Homo sapiens: one gene and its partner. The main gene of each other region encodes a partner of the protein of the gene in region 2 in a complex. Each region holds a gene or a part of one and is shown on either strand. Other genes may lie near its edges.

Region 1 (8,454 bases), on a different chromosome or scaffold from region 2:
GTTGGTTAAATTCCCATCTCTCTCCACATAATAGAAAAAAATAAACCAAGCCAGGCGCAGTGGCACATGCCTGTAATCCCAGCATTTTGGGAGGTGAAGAGGGGGTGGATCTCTAGAGCTCAAAATTCCAGACCAGCCTGGGCAACATGGCAAATCCTGTTCTCTATAAAAAATACAAAAATTAACTGGGCATACTGGCAAACGCCTATAGTCCCAGCTACTTGGGAAGCTGAGGTGAGAGGATTGCTTGAGCCCAGGAGGCCAAGGCTGCAGTGAGCCTTGATTGCACCACTGCACTCCAGTCTTGGTGACAGAGACCCTGTCTCAAAGACAAAAAAAAAAGAAAAGCAAACCAAGAACACTTTAGTAAACAACTTCGTTCTTCCAGGGTTATATTAATATATGTTATAGTATATACTACATTATTAGGCCCACCAAAAAAAAAAGGTGTCAAAGGTTAAAATTTTTTTCCAATTATTTTTGTTCCCCAAAATATTTTTAGATTTGTGTAATTTTTTTGTTTTAAGTCTCCTCATCTTGATTATCATCTCTAACAGCAACTTACCTCACGTCACTTATATACTGTCAAATGGTAAATTGCTAATTTTGCTTTATTTATTTATTTTGAGATGGAGTCTTGCTCTGTCTGTTGGGTGATCTCGGCTCACTGCAACCTCCTCCTCCCGGGTTCAAGCGATTCTCCTGCCTCAGCCTTCCAAGTAGCTGGGACCATAGGCACCCACCACCACTCCCAGCTCATTTTTGTATTTTAAGAGACGGGATTTCACCATGTTGGCCAGGCTGGTCTCAAACTCCTGACCTCAAGTGATTCGCATACCTCGGCCTTCCAAAATGCTATTACAGGCGTGTGCCACCATGCCTGGCCTAATTTTGCTTTTTTACATTATTATTTCTAGACCACAAAGGAAACAGTTTATAGAGCCCATGATTATGGATTACTTTCGATGGAAAGATACTATAACACCTGGATTTTTTACTTTTCTGTAGCTTTAAATAATACTTATAAATGTTATTAATTAAATATATTCATTTAATTTAGGTCTTAAGGTTTGACAATTCAAATTAACTTATGTTTGGATATAAACACAAAAATCTGTGTATAGGTTTTCTCTTGTCTGTTAGTTTTGTAAAAATCTGTTGGACTGTATTTCTCGGTCAAAGTCAACCATGAACTTTACTTGCACGTGTCAATATGTGGAGACCAAGAGAAACCAATAGTCTTCACACTCAATCCTTTACCCACTCACCTCTGTAATATAAAACTAAAATACTGACAGGTGATCTCAACTCTAAAGTAAAAGATCTATAAAATATAGATGAGTTCAGCATCCCAAAGCCAAAATGCTCCAAAAATCCCAATTTTCTGAGCCAACATGACATTCAAAGGAAATGCTCATTGAAGCATTTTGGATTTGGGATGTTCAACAGGTAAGTATAACGCAAACATTTCAAAATCCAAAAAAAGTCTGGAATCTGAAACGCTTCTGGTCCGAAACACTTCAGATAAGGGATATTCAACCCATACACTTCAATAAGTCCTAGTAGTAAGAGCTTGACATTCATGCTTCAAACGTCTAGACTGAGGATCCTTCAAAAGACTCAGAAGCCAGTTTGAAGAGGCTTCTACTGTTCAAGAATGGGAAATTTAAATTTTAAAGCTTTACTTCATATATTTACTCAGCCATTATTTTTGTAGTGGAGACTGCACAATGCTGTATTCAAATGCAAATAACTTATGGGCATACTACCACTTAAGATTTCTATATAATAACTTAGCACAGTGATAAAGAATTAGTTATGAACTATTACTTTTGATAAAAATCTTTTCTATATAGAGAAAATTACTGCCTTTTAAGACATAATTACTATTAAATCCTAATGAAATACTACACTACAGTTTTCCAAAGAACCAGATCATGAAAACATGTTACCACTTATTAAAACTATGAACAATCCTCAAATAGTAACACACTTAATCCTTGCCAATTATCTTCTCACCAAAAAGAGTTTAAAAAAAAATAAAAAGCTTCAAACATCTCCAAATGCATTAAATACTAAATACCTTCATTAGTAACACCTTACTTTTTTTAAGAGGCTGGAGCGCAGTGGTGCAATCACAGATCACTGCAGCCTAGAACTCCTGGCCTCAAGCAATCCCTCCCACCTCAGCCTCCCAAAGCACTGGGTGTAACACCTTACTTTTAAGTAGAAAAATCAGATCAGTAATTCTGGTAGGAAATAAAATGACCTCTTAATAAAAGTTATAATTTTTGTTTTTATTATTACAAATACTTAAGAATACTTATTAAGTTACCACTCTTGTCATCCACTTTCAGGTACATCAACTTTTTTTTTTTTCTTTTTAAAAGACAGGATCTCACTCAGTCGCCAAGACTAAAGTGCAGCCTTGACCTCCTGGGCTCAAGTGACCCTCCCACATCGGCCTCCTGAATAGGTGGGACTACAAGCATGTGCCACCACCCCCGAGCTAATTTTTTTATTTTTCTGTAGAACCAGAGGCTCCCGATGTTGCCCAAGTTGGTCTCAAACTCCTGGGCTCAAACCATTCTCCTGCCTCAGCCTCCCAAACAAAGTAGGGGGATTACAGGTGTGAGCCACCGCACCGTCCTACATAAACTTTAAACATACAAAATGTATGCATGCACATGACTTTCTCACTCTAGGCTTCTTATCAGATGTTCTAAAATCTAGAGTTAACAAGAAGTAATGGTTTTGTGCCAGGAGCAGTGGCTCACGCCTATAATCCCAGCACTCTGGGAGGCCAAGGCAGGTGGATCACCTGAGGTCAGGAGGTCAGCCTGACCAACATGGTGAAACTCCATCTCTACTAAAAATACAAAAATCAGCCAGGCGTGGTGGCACACGCCTGTAATCCCCGCTACTTGGGAGGCTGAGGCAGGAGAATCACTTGAACCCAGGAGGCAGAGGTTGCAGTGAGCACAGATCACACCACTGCACTCCAGCCTGGGCAACAAGAGGGAAACTCTGTCTCAAAAAAAAGCAATGGTTTTCTTAGGGGTGGGGATGAGGAGGGCAGTTATTTGAAACCTTAACTTCTCACATATTCTTACCATGAGTTTCACCAAAGTGGAGGTTAATTCGTATGTATTTTTAGCACTTGCCAGCACTTGCTTTTTAGGTTTGAAAAGGCTTGCCAAAAGTTATCTCAAAACTTATAACCACTAGTACTATCTTTGTAAGAGAAAACATCACACACATATATTTATACACACAAGTTAAAGGGAGGGGGAACCTGCTGAGGAAAATTAAGGAATACGTTATTTTAAACTACTTTAACGACCTGATACCTGAGGAATGGGATTCTTACTGGTTCCAACAATGTTCCAAAGTTTCCACTTCAACACAGTCTAACACACAATGAACATAAAATATTATCTTCACATATAGTATGCAAAATCAAAACAAAGAGCTTCTTACACTTCAACATTTTTCTGTTGCAGACCAGATGTCTTCTTTCCTGGGGCAGCCCCTCTCATCTTCCCCTCTGCATACTGCTCCCTTCAAAAATAATTTCAGTAATGTCAACATAAAATGAGCATTTATGTGAAAAAAAAATTGTCAGCCTGATTCCATTAGGAATTTACATTCAAATTCTGGCAACAAGTTTTTAACAAGTTGGACAGAGATATTTCCACAAAAATCAAACAAAACACTCAAGAAACAGCAAAAGGCTCAATTAAAATCAATGTAATAAAAAGTGACTGTAATAGACTGTTCTCATAGCATTGAAAATTCCATTTGTTTTGGAATTCACTAATCCCAGTGTTTTATTTGTTCCCATTACCATTTTAATTCTTTTTTTTTTTTTTTTTGAGACAGAGTTTCACTGTGCTGCCCAGGCTACACTGCAGTGGCGCGATCTCCGCTCACTGAAAGCTCTGCCTCCCGGGTTCACGCCATTCTCCTGCCTCAGCCTCCGGAGTAGCTGGGACTACAGGCGCCCGCCACCATGCCCGGCTAATTTTTTGAATTTTTAGTAGAGACGGGGTTTCACCGTGTTAGCCAGGATGGTCTTGATCTCCTGACCTCGTGATCCACCCGCCTTGGCCTCCCAAAATGCTGGGATTACAGGCGTGAGCCACTGCGCCCAGCCATCGTTTTAATTTTTTTAAAAATACATTTCAACTTTGAGATTACCCTATAAATCATAGAGTCTTTCAGGGTCCCTTTTCCCGTGCTTTCAGAGATGAAAAGCAGAATAGGAAATGCCTCGTTTGCTTGTTTCCCCACCAAATTTGTCTTCCAGAGCCCCCGAAAATAAAGATTTTTATCAGTGAGTTCATACCTATAGCAATTTCCAACAACATTCTGCTGTTTTCTACCTAGGTCTAAGATAAGCTCAAGTAATGGCAGGTATGCTACTTCCTTTACCTAGATATGGCTTGATCGCTTGAAGTCAAAGCTGTAACACAGCAGCTGAAAGGTACCAGGAATCATTTTATAGGCAGGGCAGCCAACATGATCTCCATTGTTCATTCCATGTCCAGAATTAATCTACAGGCATTTCTCCTTAATATTCAGTTCACAAAACAAACTTACTGATTGGCTTTTTGAAGTTCTCGCTGTTTCTGCAAATTGGTGTCCACGTATTTGAGTACTCTGCTCTCCGGAACCCATTCATCCCAACTGAAAAAGAGGAAAGTTAAAATTTAACTCAAAAATACTCTGTTCTCCAACTAATTTTCTGAGATCAAGAGGCAAGACTGGATTTCTCTTAAGTAATTTGATGAACTGGCACTACAAATATATTCTCAACTAAAATGAAGATCTAATGGAAGTCTGTTCTGTAAAAAGGAAAACTTTTTATTTTCAAAAAGCAGCATTCCAAATCTAAGCTGCCAGAGTCCAAAAGCAGATTATTCAAATCATTTTTAGAAATGGCTTAAGAGTTTGGCACTTAATGTAAGATTCACTAAGTGATTAGTCTTATGTTATCTTAAAGACTTTTATTGTCAAAAATAAAGCACAGGAGTCAAAAACTCAGTTATTTTTAAAAATTAAAACCAGCTGTGTGTAATGACAAAGTTCCATATAGCTTTGTGTTTTCATTTCATTCTCTATGAAATGAGGATAACAACAGTACTTATCTCAAATAACTGTTATGAGAATACATGTAAAACACCTGAGAATCCCTGACACAAAACAACACTAAAGGTATGTCAGAAACATATTAGGAAGTCTACAATACTCAAACACCAACTAGACTAACTTAAGTTTGTAAAGTATTAAAATGATTTGACACCATTCTCCACCTTCATTCAGTCACAAATGAATACACACTAATAACTTTCAAGGCTGATCAGAAAGCTGGCTTTCTAAATATTAGAAGGCAGAACCAACTCTCTCAAAAATGTTAAGACATTCTGGCACTTCAAAGAGCTTGTTCAAAACACAATTTCTGATTATGTGTTTTTTCCCCCAAAATGGCAAACAAAAACAATGTAATTTCTTAGGGAATGCTAACTTTTTTTGAGCAGTAAATCTTTTCTCCTGCTGATGGAGCTCCTTTAGTGACACAATTAGGTGTACTCTCAAGGCACCCAATTACAAAAAAAAATTTAAGACTTTCTTTTGTTTAATGATTTCCCACCTCTGACCTCTTATATAATACAGCCAAGAGGAAAATAATAAAAAGCAATCCTGAACATGATTTCCTAGAGAAAATTTCAAAACATGCATTTACCTAGAGGTCAGGAGGGGGTGGTGTACTGAGGGAGCTCCTTCAGGAACAGGAAAAAGGGCTACAATATCCTCATGTGTCTTCAAAGATTTTTCAGAGCGCCTGGGCCTCACAGCACTTCTGATACAGACAGCATAGTACAAAGTAATCTCAGTGACCAGGTGCAGAATTGAGCCTCAGCTTTATTAAGATTCATTTACAAATGGAGTATTTAAGTGTGTGTCAACAAATTCCAATGAGGTTTGAAAATTTAGAAATCTCCATCATCTATTATGTTTTTGAAAAAAGATTAACTGAAGTTTAAGAGAATTCCAATTTAGGGATTAAGGTTTTGTTGTACGAATTTTAAAAAGTACCCTGCACAAGCCATTTTCAAAATGAGATTATTTTTGAGATATTTGTGTGTGTGTGTGTGTGTGTGTGTGTATTTTTTTTTTTTTTTTTTTTGAGACAGAGTTGCGCTCTCGTTGCCCTGGCTGGAGTGCAATGGCGTGATCTTGGCTCACCACAACCTCTGCCTCCTGGGTTCTAGCGATTCTCCTGCCTCAGCCTCCTGAGTAATTGGGATTACAGGCATGCGCCACCACGCCCAGCTAATTTTGTATTTTTAGTACAGACAGGGTTTCTCCATGTTGGTCAGGCTTGTCTCGAACTCCTAGCCTCAGGTGATCCGCCCACCCTCGGCTTCCCAAAATGCTGGGACTACAGGTGCGCGCCACTACACCCAGCTAATTTTTAGTAGAGACAGAGTTTCACCACCATGGCCAGGCTGGTTTTGAACTCCTGACCTCGTGATCCACCTGCCTAGGCCTCCCAAAGTGCTGGGATTACAGGCATGAGCCATCGCGCCTGGCAAGAATTTCAGCTTTTTGTTTTTTTTTTTGAGATGGAGTCTTGCTCTGTCGCCCAGGCTGGAGTGCAGTGGCACGATCTCGGCTCACTGCAACCTCTGCCTCCCAGGTTCAAGCAGTTCTCCTGCCTCAGCCTACAAACTAGCTGGGATTACAGGCATGAACCACCACACCTGGCTAATTTTTGTATTTTTACTAGAGACGGGATTTCATCATGTTGGCCAGGCTGGTCTAGAACTCCTGACCTTGTGATCTGCCCGCCTCGGCCTCCCAAAGTGCTGGGATTACAGGTGTGAGCCACCGCGCCTGGCCCAGAATTTCATAGTTTTCTAACGGTAATGTGACTAATTCCCAGAGTCACAATGATCCATGGGCAGTACTTACATAGACTAAATACACAACACACTAGGTATCTGAATAACTCCTCCCCCTTTCAAAATGAATTTAAAGGTTTCTTTAAAGACTTTCTAAAGCTAAGATCATTCTTTCAACATTGCATATATTTATCTACATGCCAAGTCAACCAAAGACATTTCTGATATATTAATATTCCTCAATACATCTACAAAGATAGTAACAAATCTCTAATATTTGATGCTATTTTTTCTTAACTTTCCCCAACAGTAATTAATATGTGTCAAATTAGTTGAGAACAAAAAAATCTACACAAACCTATCATTTCTTTGAGTTACTGGACTACAATACACCAAAGAGGAAAATGCCCATTATTTTTCGAAACAATAAAATCTGAAAATACAAGCATTTGGTATTTTCACAACTTGTGACAAGCTACAAATGCCACTTAAAATCCAGTCTTTGCGCTGTACACATCTATGTGTGCAATTTTATACAGGGTTATCTATTATATGTGAAAAAGAACTAAGCACAAAAGCTGTATTCACAGTTACTAAGGTGAAATTCTAAAATAATTTTTTAAGGTTTTTAAAAATATCTTCTTTATTCTATTCCCTTGTCGTAGTTTCCCTTAGTTTTTTATGTGTTCAATCGCTTTTTTTTTTTTTTTCCTGAGTCTCACTCTGTCGCCTAGGCTAGAATACAGTGGTGCAATCTCAGCTCACTGCAACCTTCGCCTCCTGGGTTCAAGCGATTCTCCTGCCTCAGCCTCCCCAGCAGCTGGGACTACAGTCGTGTGCCACCACACCTGGCTAATTTTTTTATTTTTAGTAGAGATGGGGTTTCACCATGTTGGCCAGGCTGGACTTGAACTCCTGACCTCAAATGATCCAACCGTTTTGGCCTCCCAAAGTGTTGAGATTACAGGCATGAGCCACTACACCCAGCCTCAAACACTTTTTTAAAATTTTTATTTGCTTAATTATAAGAGGGGTGTCTACCTATGTTGCCCAGGCTGGCCTCAAACTCCTGGGCTCAACCTCAGCCTCCCTAAGAAGCTAAAACTATAGGCACCACCATACTGGCTCTAAAACAATTCCTTTAAAATGCAGGAGATGGAGGAGATTAAGCCTAAACCATAAATTTGCTTTGTGTTTTTTTTTGATATCCTATATGGTCTTTCCCACTCATAGTATGCATAAAATTAAGATGTTATCTTTCCTGTAGAGAAATGAAATTCTCCTAACACTCTCAACTTTATCTGGATATTGTCAGAATATCAACACACAAAATATAAGTCTAATAAAGATTGAAATGCAGTTTTAGCAAGGCATTGTTTAGTAATAAAAAGCTATGAGATACACTAGGAGTCACTATTTTCCTGTTTCCTAGATATTAGAATCCATTTAGTACTAAAAGCACAGTTTACTTCTACCAAGACAGTTTTCTCCATTATTTTCCCAACTTCTCAATATTTAAAATACAAGTCCATGAGGTTGGAGTTAC
Region 2 (8,664 bases):
TGCACTGTAGGACTGTATGATTTGAAAAGAAGGTTGCATTCCATTTATGGAGAAACTTAAATGTCACACTAATAAACACGCTTTTAACCTGCAGGCCAGTGATTCTCAATCCCCTCCATCTCCTTATTTTCCCTACCATTGATAATCATTGTTGAGGTAAACTAAAGTTACTGAGAGAAATATGTGTCATTCCTCAGGCGTGTTGGGACAGAAAAACAGCTGAGTACTGCTACTATGGATAATGGAGGGCCACTGAAGATTTAGGGGAGGGGTAATGGTATGTACAATGGGTATTTCAGAAAGCTCTGGGGGCAGTTAGATGGCCTGGAGTAGAGAACGTGAAGTACAGCCTAGACCTCAGGTGAACTGGTTAGGGCTAGAATGGCAGCCATATTATAAAGAAAAGGGAAAAAAGCCACTTGAGGGAGAGGGAGTCAACTGGGCTGGCTGACACCTCACATATGTGGTTCTCTCTTCAATCAGTGATGCAGACTAATGGGCTAATCTTGGTACACATGATGCCAAAGCAAGCAAATAACACAGATGGCTGACACTCCAAGCCAGCCAGAGTTCAATTTTGCACTGATGACCATCATTTCCTCCTAACTGATGTTTGTAAAAGACAGCCTGGGAACACATTAATCCCCTCAGCTTTAATCTGGTATTAAGCCATATCACCAGAGGGTAGTAGATCAACCACACATTAGCTTAGTGCCCAATCAACATACTTGCACTAAATTAAGGATTTACTACCATTCCTTCGGCTTTTATTGAGAGTCATTAAGAGACATCACTAGAAAAGAGAATGTTTGTATATCATCTATGAAAACCATTACTTTTTATAATATAAGGATATAATGATAAATGCTCCCTAGGATTTAAGGCTGAAAAAGTTTGTGTCTCTTGAAGAACTTGTATGCTTCTTTCTTACTAAAAAAAGAAATACAAGGTTTGGCTACCAGGAAGCTCACAACTAAATTTAATATCAATTGCTATTACCATTTTAGCAGAGGTTCCTGGTACAATTACTTCTGATCTGTCTCTATTTTTACTGTTCCTACTTTTTGTTTATATTGTAAGCCTCCTTAAATCCTTTTTGGAAGCATGAAGGGTACATATTAAATAACAAGTCGTAAAATGACAGAAATAGGAAAATGGCCTTAGAGGAGGGATGAGAAAGTTCTATTTTAAACTAGTTGGTTAGGGCTGTGTCAGTAATGACTCTGTCAGTGATGTGGGTTTTTTTTTTTTTTGAGACAGAGTCTCACTCTGTCGCCCAGGCTGGAGGGCAGTGGCGCAATCCACTGCAACCTCTGCCTCCTGGGTTCAAGTGATTCTCCTGCCTCAGCCTCCTAAGTAGCTGGAATTACAGGCACACGCCACCACAACCAGCTAATTTTTTGCATTTTTAGTAGTGACAGGGTTTCACCATGTTGGTCAGGCTGGTCTCGAACTCCTGACCTCGTGATCCACCCGCCTCAGCCTCCCAAAGTGCTGGAATTACAGGCGTGAGCCACCACACCCAGCCCCTAAGTCCTGTGGGTTCTATTCCTTAATTTCTCTTGAATCTTTCTGTTTCTCTACTGCCATGCCCCCTTCAAGCCATTCTCATTACAGAGTAAGTAACCTTCCTAAAGTACAAATTTCATCGTGGAATTCTGATGACTCTTCTCAGTCCTCTGGATGAAGAGCAAAATTCCTTAACATAGCTCACAAGGCCCTAAAGGATCTGGCCCATGCCTACTCCCTGCAGGCTTATCAATCTTTAGTCTCCTTCATGCTCTGGAGAATGAAAGTAGACTTGCAGGTCCTAGACCAGGATCTCAATGTCTTTACATACTCAGCCCATCCTGCTCTGTGGACTAACCTTTCTCCTTCTCCTGCTTTTCATCAAGCTAAGGTCTACTTTTCAAACTGTCCTCAGCTTAAACATCATCCCTCCAGGGATGCCTATCCTGATCAACAACTTTGGTTCAGATGTATTACCTTAACACTCTTACACCTTGTTTTAGTCCTTATCACACATTTTTTGTTTGTTTTTGAGACGGAGTCCTGCTCTGTCGCCCAGGCTGGAGTGCAGTGGTACGATCTCGGCTCACTGCAACCTCCTCCTCCCAGGTTCAAGCGATTCTCTGCCTCAGCCTCCTGAGTAGCTGGGACTATAGGCGCACACCACCACGCTTGGCTAATTTTTGTATTTTAATAGAGACAGGGGGTTTTACCATGTTGGCCAGGATGGTCTCGATTTCCTGACCTTGTGATCCACCCGCCTCGGCCTTCCAAAGTGCTGGGATTACAGGCGTGAGCCACTGTGCCCGGCCAAAGCCACTGTGCTCGGCCTATCACACAGTATTTTAACTGTTAACCCAGGCAGTTACCCCACTGGGGCATGGAGTATGTAAGGACAGAGCACTGTTTTTAATATTCTGTTTCCCTAGAGCCTAAAACAACCTATTACCGATGGCATGCTCTGGGTACTCAACACATTTAATAAACGGGTAGATTCAACTAATAAAAATTTAGCAAGTGGCAGCCCAGTCCGGACACCTCACACATAATGTTGAACAAAACAGACCATCTCTAACTTTATACAGTTTACAATGCAATAGAAAAGCATAAGCAAGTAAGCAAACCAAATCTAATTGCAAATTGAAATATGTTCTGTGGAAGAAATAAATGGGGACACTTGTTAGGATAGTCAAGGAAGGGTTATCTTCCTGAGAAAACATTTACACTGAGACCTGAAAGCTGAAAAAGAAGTGGGCTAAGCTCCTCTACTTTTGGAGCGGTTCCTTTCCATGTCTCAGGTGAATAATCCAGCAGTGGGCCAACGAGTATACATCGAGCAACTGTCTACTACTATGTGTGTGCCTCGTGTATGCTGGACGTCAGAAGTACAGTGAAAGATGCAACCACGCAAGTATACGGTAGGTTTCTGCCGTTCTCTGTTCTCTGGAGTGCCTCCGGAGAGCTTCTCCGTCTCAGGCCCCTTTGACCCCATCCAGAGCTCTCCCTTCTAGGACTCCACACTATCCGTTCCCCCGCCTCGCCCCCCGGCTCCGATTCACCCACCCAACTCGAGTATCAGCTCCCAGAGCTCCTCTCTATTCCCCGCCCTCTTCTTCTTTGTCCGGGGTTTCTCCCTTCAGGGCTCCTCTTTGCCTCCTCCCCTCCCTTTTCCCAGGCCCGGATCTTGCCTCTGTGAAACCCCCATAAGTCGTCTGGTAGAACTCATCTTCCTCCTCTGCCTCCAAAAGCCCAGAAAGCCGGTTCCCAGCGGTCTTCCGGGGTGCCCGGCCCCCAGCCAAACTCATACCGCCTACCGAGACTGCGCCGCCACCTGCAGCCCCTCACCAGCTCGGTTTTGGGAGCTCGACGCTCGACATCACTACCTGCGGGTGGCCACCAGCGGCGGAAGTCGGGCGTTTACAGGCAGAAGTAACAGAGTGTCGAGAGACTCCCAGTCCCACCCTCTAAACCCTCTTTACTCTTCAGCCTCTCCTACTCCTGCGCGGATGCTCTAGGCCGCTTGCTCTAGTACCCAGCGATCTCCCTTGCTCAATGAGTCCACTTGGTGGTACGAAGACCCCCATAACCCTAAGTCAACACATTTTATTTTATTTATTTTTATTTTATATATATATATGGTTTTTTTTTTCCGTAGGGACGGAGTCTCGCCTCGCTCTGTCGCCAGACTGGAGTGCAGTGGCACGATCTCGGCTCACTGCAACCTCCGTCCCCCGGGCTGAAGCGATTCTCCTGCCTCAGTCCCCCGAGTAGCTGGGATTACAGGCGCCCGCCACCATGCCCAACTAATTTTTGTATTTTTAGTAGAGACAGCTTTCACCGTGTTGGCCAGGCTGGTCTCGAACTCCTGACCTCAGGTGATCCGCCCGCTTCGGCCTCCCAAAGTGCTGGGATTACAGGCATAAGCCTGCGCCCCCAGCTCACATTTTCTTTTAGAAGAGGTCATTCTCTCCGCTCCAGTCCATTTTCTACACTGCTGCTAGTAGGAAACTTTCTAAAAACCCACGTTTTGCCACTCCTGTCCTCAAACATTTTTAATGGCTCCACATCATCTACAAGATAAAGTCAAAAATCCTTGAGGAAGGAAGCATAGTATTGTGGTTAAAAACACAGCCATAGACATTTATCCAAAGGAAAGGACATAATTCAACCTGAGGAAGCCAATTTAGGAGGAAAAAAAAAAAGGAAATCAGTATATCCAAGAGACGTCTGCACTCCATATTTATGCACCCCCATATTTATTGCAGCACTACTTAGAGTAGCCAAAATAGGAAATCAATCTCTGTGTCCAACAACAGATGAATAAAGGAAATAGGGTGTATATACACAATGGAATACTTTTCAGCCATTAAAAAGAAGAAAATCCTGTCATTTGCAGCAACATGGATGGAACTGGAGGACATGTTAACTGACTTAAGCCACGAACAGAAAGTTAAAACACTGCATGTTCTCACTCATATGTGACGCTTTTAAAAAGTTGATTTCATAGAAGTGAAAGAACAGAGGATACTGGAGGCTGGGAAGAGCAGGGGGAAGGAAGGGACAGGGAAAGATTTGTTAAAAGACACAAAATTGTGGCTCACACCTGTAATCCCAGCACTTTGGGAGGCCGAAGGGGGTGGATCATGAGGTCAGGAGTTCACGACCAGCCTGGCCAAGATGGCGAAACCCCATCTCTACTAAAAATACAAAAATTAGCTGGTCGTGGTGGTGGGCGCCTGTTATCCCAGATACTCGAGAGGCTGAGGCAGAGAATTGCTTGAACTCGGGAGGCGGAGGTTGCAGTGAGCCGAGATCGCGCCATTTGCTCTCCAGCCTGGGAAACAGAGCAAGACTCCGTCTCAGAAAAAAAAAAAAGACAAAATTGGGCCTGGCACAGTGGCTCACACCTGTAATCCCAGCACTTTGGGAGGCTGAAGCGGGCAGATCCCGAGGTCAAGAGATTGTGACCATCCTGGCCAACATGGTGAAACCCCGTATCTACTACAAATACAAAAATTAGCTGGGTGTGGTGGCGCGCACCTGTAGTCCCAGCTACTAGGGAGGCTGAGGCAGGAGAATCGCTTGAACCCGGGAGGCAGAGGTTGCAGTGAGCTGAGATTGTGCCACTGCACTCCAGCCTGGCAACAGAGCAAGACTCCATCTCAAAAGAAAAAAAAAAAAGACACAAAATTACAATTTTTTTTGAGACAGGGTCTCTATTGCCCAGGCTGGAGTGCAGCAGCAGGATCATGGCTCACTGCCTCCTTGACCTCCTGGGCTCAAGCTGTCCTCCCACCTTGGCTTCCAAAAGTGCTAGGATTACAGCTGTGAGCCACCACACTGGCCCCCAATTACATTTGTTTGTTCGTTTGTTTGTTTGTTTGAGATAGGATCTCACTTTGTCACCCAGGCTGGAATACAGTGATGCAATCACTGCTCACTGCAGTCTCGACCTCCTGGGTTCAAGTGATCATCGCACCTCAGCCTCGTGGGTAGCTGGAACTACAGGCTCGTGTCACCACGCCTGGCTAATTTTTTGTACTTTTTGTGGAGATGAGATTTCATCATGTTGCCCACGGTGATCACCTGAGCTCAAGTGATCCCCACTCCTCAGCCTCTCAATGTGCTGGGATTACAGGTGTGAGCCACCTCGCTTGGCCCCAAATTACATTTAGATAGGAGGAATAAATTCTAGTGTTCTTGGCCGGGTGTGGTGGCTCACACCTGTAATCCCAAAACTTTGGGAGGCTGAAGTGGGCAGATCACCTTAGATCAGGAGTTTGAGACTAGCCTGGCCAACATGGCGAAACCCCATCTCTACTAAAAATACAAAAATTAGCCGAGCACGTTGGCGGGTGCCTGTAATCCCACCTACTAGGAGGCAGAGGCAGGAGAATCACTTGAACCCCGGAGGCGGAGGTTGCAGTGAACCAAGATCGCACCATTGCACTCTAGCCTGGGCAACAAGAGTGAGACTCCATCTCAAAAAAAAAAAAAAAAATTCTAGTGTTCTATATCACTGGGGGATAACTATGATTAACAATAATATTTTCAAATAGCTAGAAGAAGGATATTGAATGTTTGTGCTGGAGACAAATAAATTATATATTTGTGAGGCCAGGCACGGTGGCTCACGCCTGTAATCCCAGCACTTTGGGAGGTTAAGGTGGGCAGATTATTTGAGGTCGGTAGTTCAAGACAAGCCTGACTGACATGGTGAAACCTTGTCTTTACTAAAAAGTACGCAAATTGGCCAGGAGTGGTGGCAGGTGCCTGTAGTTCCAGCTACTTAGGAGGCTGAGACATGAGAATCACTTGAAACCGGGAGGTGGAGGTTGTAGTGAGCCAACGTCGTGCCACTGCACTCCAGCTTGGATGACAGAGCGAGACACCATCTCAAAATAAATAAATAAATAAATGATACATTTTTTAGATGACAGATATACTAATTATCCTGATCTGATCACTAAACATTTTATGTATTGAAACATCACTATGTGCCCCATAAATATGTACAATTATGTGCCAATTAAAAATTAAAATAAAATAAAACAACAACAAAAAGAGAACACAGCTTTAGAGCCAGCCAGACCTGAATTTGAGTGTGAACTTTAAGGTCTTTTAGCTGTATGACTTTGGACAAGTTGCTTTACTTCTCTGAATCTCAGTTTTCTCATCTGCAAAGTGGGACTGATAATAATACCTATCTTTTAAGGTCGTAGAAGATTAAGAGATATAATTATTGGCCAGGTGCCATGGCTCACGCCTATAATCCCAGTACTTTGGGAGGCCGAGGCGGGTAGATCACAAGGTCAGTAGTTCGAGACCAGCGTGGCCAGTATGGTGAAACCCCATCTCTACTGAAAATATAAAAATTACCCAGGCATGGTGGCGGGTGCCTGTAGTCCCAGCTAGTCGAGAGGCTGAGGCAGGAGAATAGCTTGAACCCAGGAGACGGAGGTTGCAGTGAGCCAAGATAGCACCACTGCACTCCAGCCCGGGCGACAGAGCCACATTCTGTCTCAAAAAAAAAAAAAAAAAAAAAAAAAGACAGAGAGAGATAATTCTTGTCAACTGCTTAGCACAGTGTTTAGTAAGTGCATAGTAAATGTGTAGTAGGTGGTAACTACTACATGGCATTCAGTATTCAGATCCTTCATAATTTAGCCTCTCCCTGTCCTTCTAGTCACACCTCCTGCGACATCACTACTCCAGCATCTCTCCCCTAACACCCAATTCTCTGTCATGCCTCTATGCCTTTCTTTCTCCTTAGAATCCCTTTCCTTTCTTTTCTAATTTTATGGGAGAGTGGAGTCTTCCTGAACACCCATTCCTCTCTTTCCAGGCACAATTCATATAACTATGGAGATGATGTCTTCTGTAGTCTCTGGAATAGTTCCAATCTCAAATATTGTCTGTTGTAAAGACTGTTCTCATTTTTTATTCTGAAAATATGGTTATCAAACCATAGCACTTACACAAACTTTATGATGGCACCTATTACATTGTATTCTAATGATTCACATGTCTGTTCCCCTCATTAGTCTGTGATCTTTTTGAGGGCAGGGGCTTAATCTTTTCCTTTTTTTAATTAAAAAAAATTGTTTTGGAGACATGGTTTTGCTCTGTCGCCCAGGCTGGAGAGTAGTGGTGCAATTTTAGCTTACTGCAGCCTTGACCTCCTGGGCTCAAGTGATCCACCCATCTCAGTTTCCTTAGTAGCTGTGACTACAGGTGCGCACCACCACGCTCAGCGAATTTTTGTATTTTTTGTAGAGATAGGATTTTTGCCATGTTGCCCAGGCTAGTCTTGAACCCCTGGGCTCAAGCAATCTGCCTGCCTCAGCTCCCAAAGTGTTGGGATTACAGGAGTGAGCCATCCTGCCTGATGATGGGCTTAATGGTCATCTGTGTATTCCAGGAACTCTAATAGTGCCTGGGACGTAGCTTGGGCTAAATAATGTTAATTGAGTGAATTAATTAATGAATGATTAATTGAATAAATAGCCCATCCTCTTATTGTAGAATCCTTTCCTTGCTCTTGCCAGTCCCCATCACTTCATTCTAATCTTAGAAACTTTTCTGGCCGGGCGCAGTAGCTCATACCTGTAATCCCAGCACTTAGGGAGGCCGAGGCAGGCAGATCACGAGGTCAAGAGATCGAGACCATCCTGGCTAACACAGTGAAACCCTGTCTCTACTAAAGATACAAAAAATTAGCCGGACGTGGTGGTTTGTGCCTGTAATCCCAGCTACTTGGGAGGCTGATGCAGGAGAATCGCTTGAACCCGGGAGGCGGAAGTTGCAGCGAGCCAAGATCGCGCCACTGCACTCTAGCCTGGGCGACAGAGGGAGACTCTGTCTCAAAAAAAAAACAATAATAAAATAAATAAATAAATAAAATAAAGAAACTGTTCTAAGATATGAATGACACTTTAATAAAGGTGTGGGTGTGTACTCACATGTACTGAAGTCTGTACCTGTGGCCCTACTTTGAGGTCATCAGATTGTACCCCCTTTCCCAAAGTATGTATTGGTGAACTCCCTTTTCTGTTTCCTTGGGGCACTAAGCCAACATGTCCTGCTCTGCCCCTGTTTCCACACCCTGCCACGTCACCACAGTTCTACTATGCCAGGAATGTTACCGGGGAGGAG

The links. The genes of interacting proteins can lie anywhere in the genome.
Region 1: VPS72 (region 2) and MORF4L1 share a complex: the UniProt entries of both Homo sapiens proteins name them as parts of the nuA4 histone acetyltransferase complex.

The regions. Positions count from the first base shown.
Region 1 is NC_000015.10:78,882,376-78,890,829, reverse strand, and holds part of MORF4L1 (mortality factor 4-like protein 1), read right to left. Parts: intron 5,864-8,454; coding exon of another isoform or gene 5,747-5,863; intron 4,690-5,746; coding exon 4,603-4,689; intron 3,562-4,602; coding exon 3,481-3,561; intron 1-3,480. UniProt on the Homo sapiens protein: Component of the NuA4 histone acetyltransferase (HAT) complex which is involved in transcriptional activation of select genes principally by acetylation of nucleosomal histones H4 and H2A.
Region 2 is NC_000001.11:151,186,808-151,195,471, forward strand, and holds the start of VPS72 (vacuolar protein sorting-associated protein 72 homolog), read right to left. Parts: upstream 3,391-8,664; 5' UTR 3,315-3,390; coding exon 3,198-3,314; intron 1-3,197. UniProt on the Homo sapiens protein: Deposition-and-exchange histone chaperone specific for H2AZ1, specifically chaperones H2AZ1 and deposits it into nucleosomes.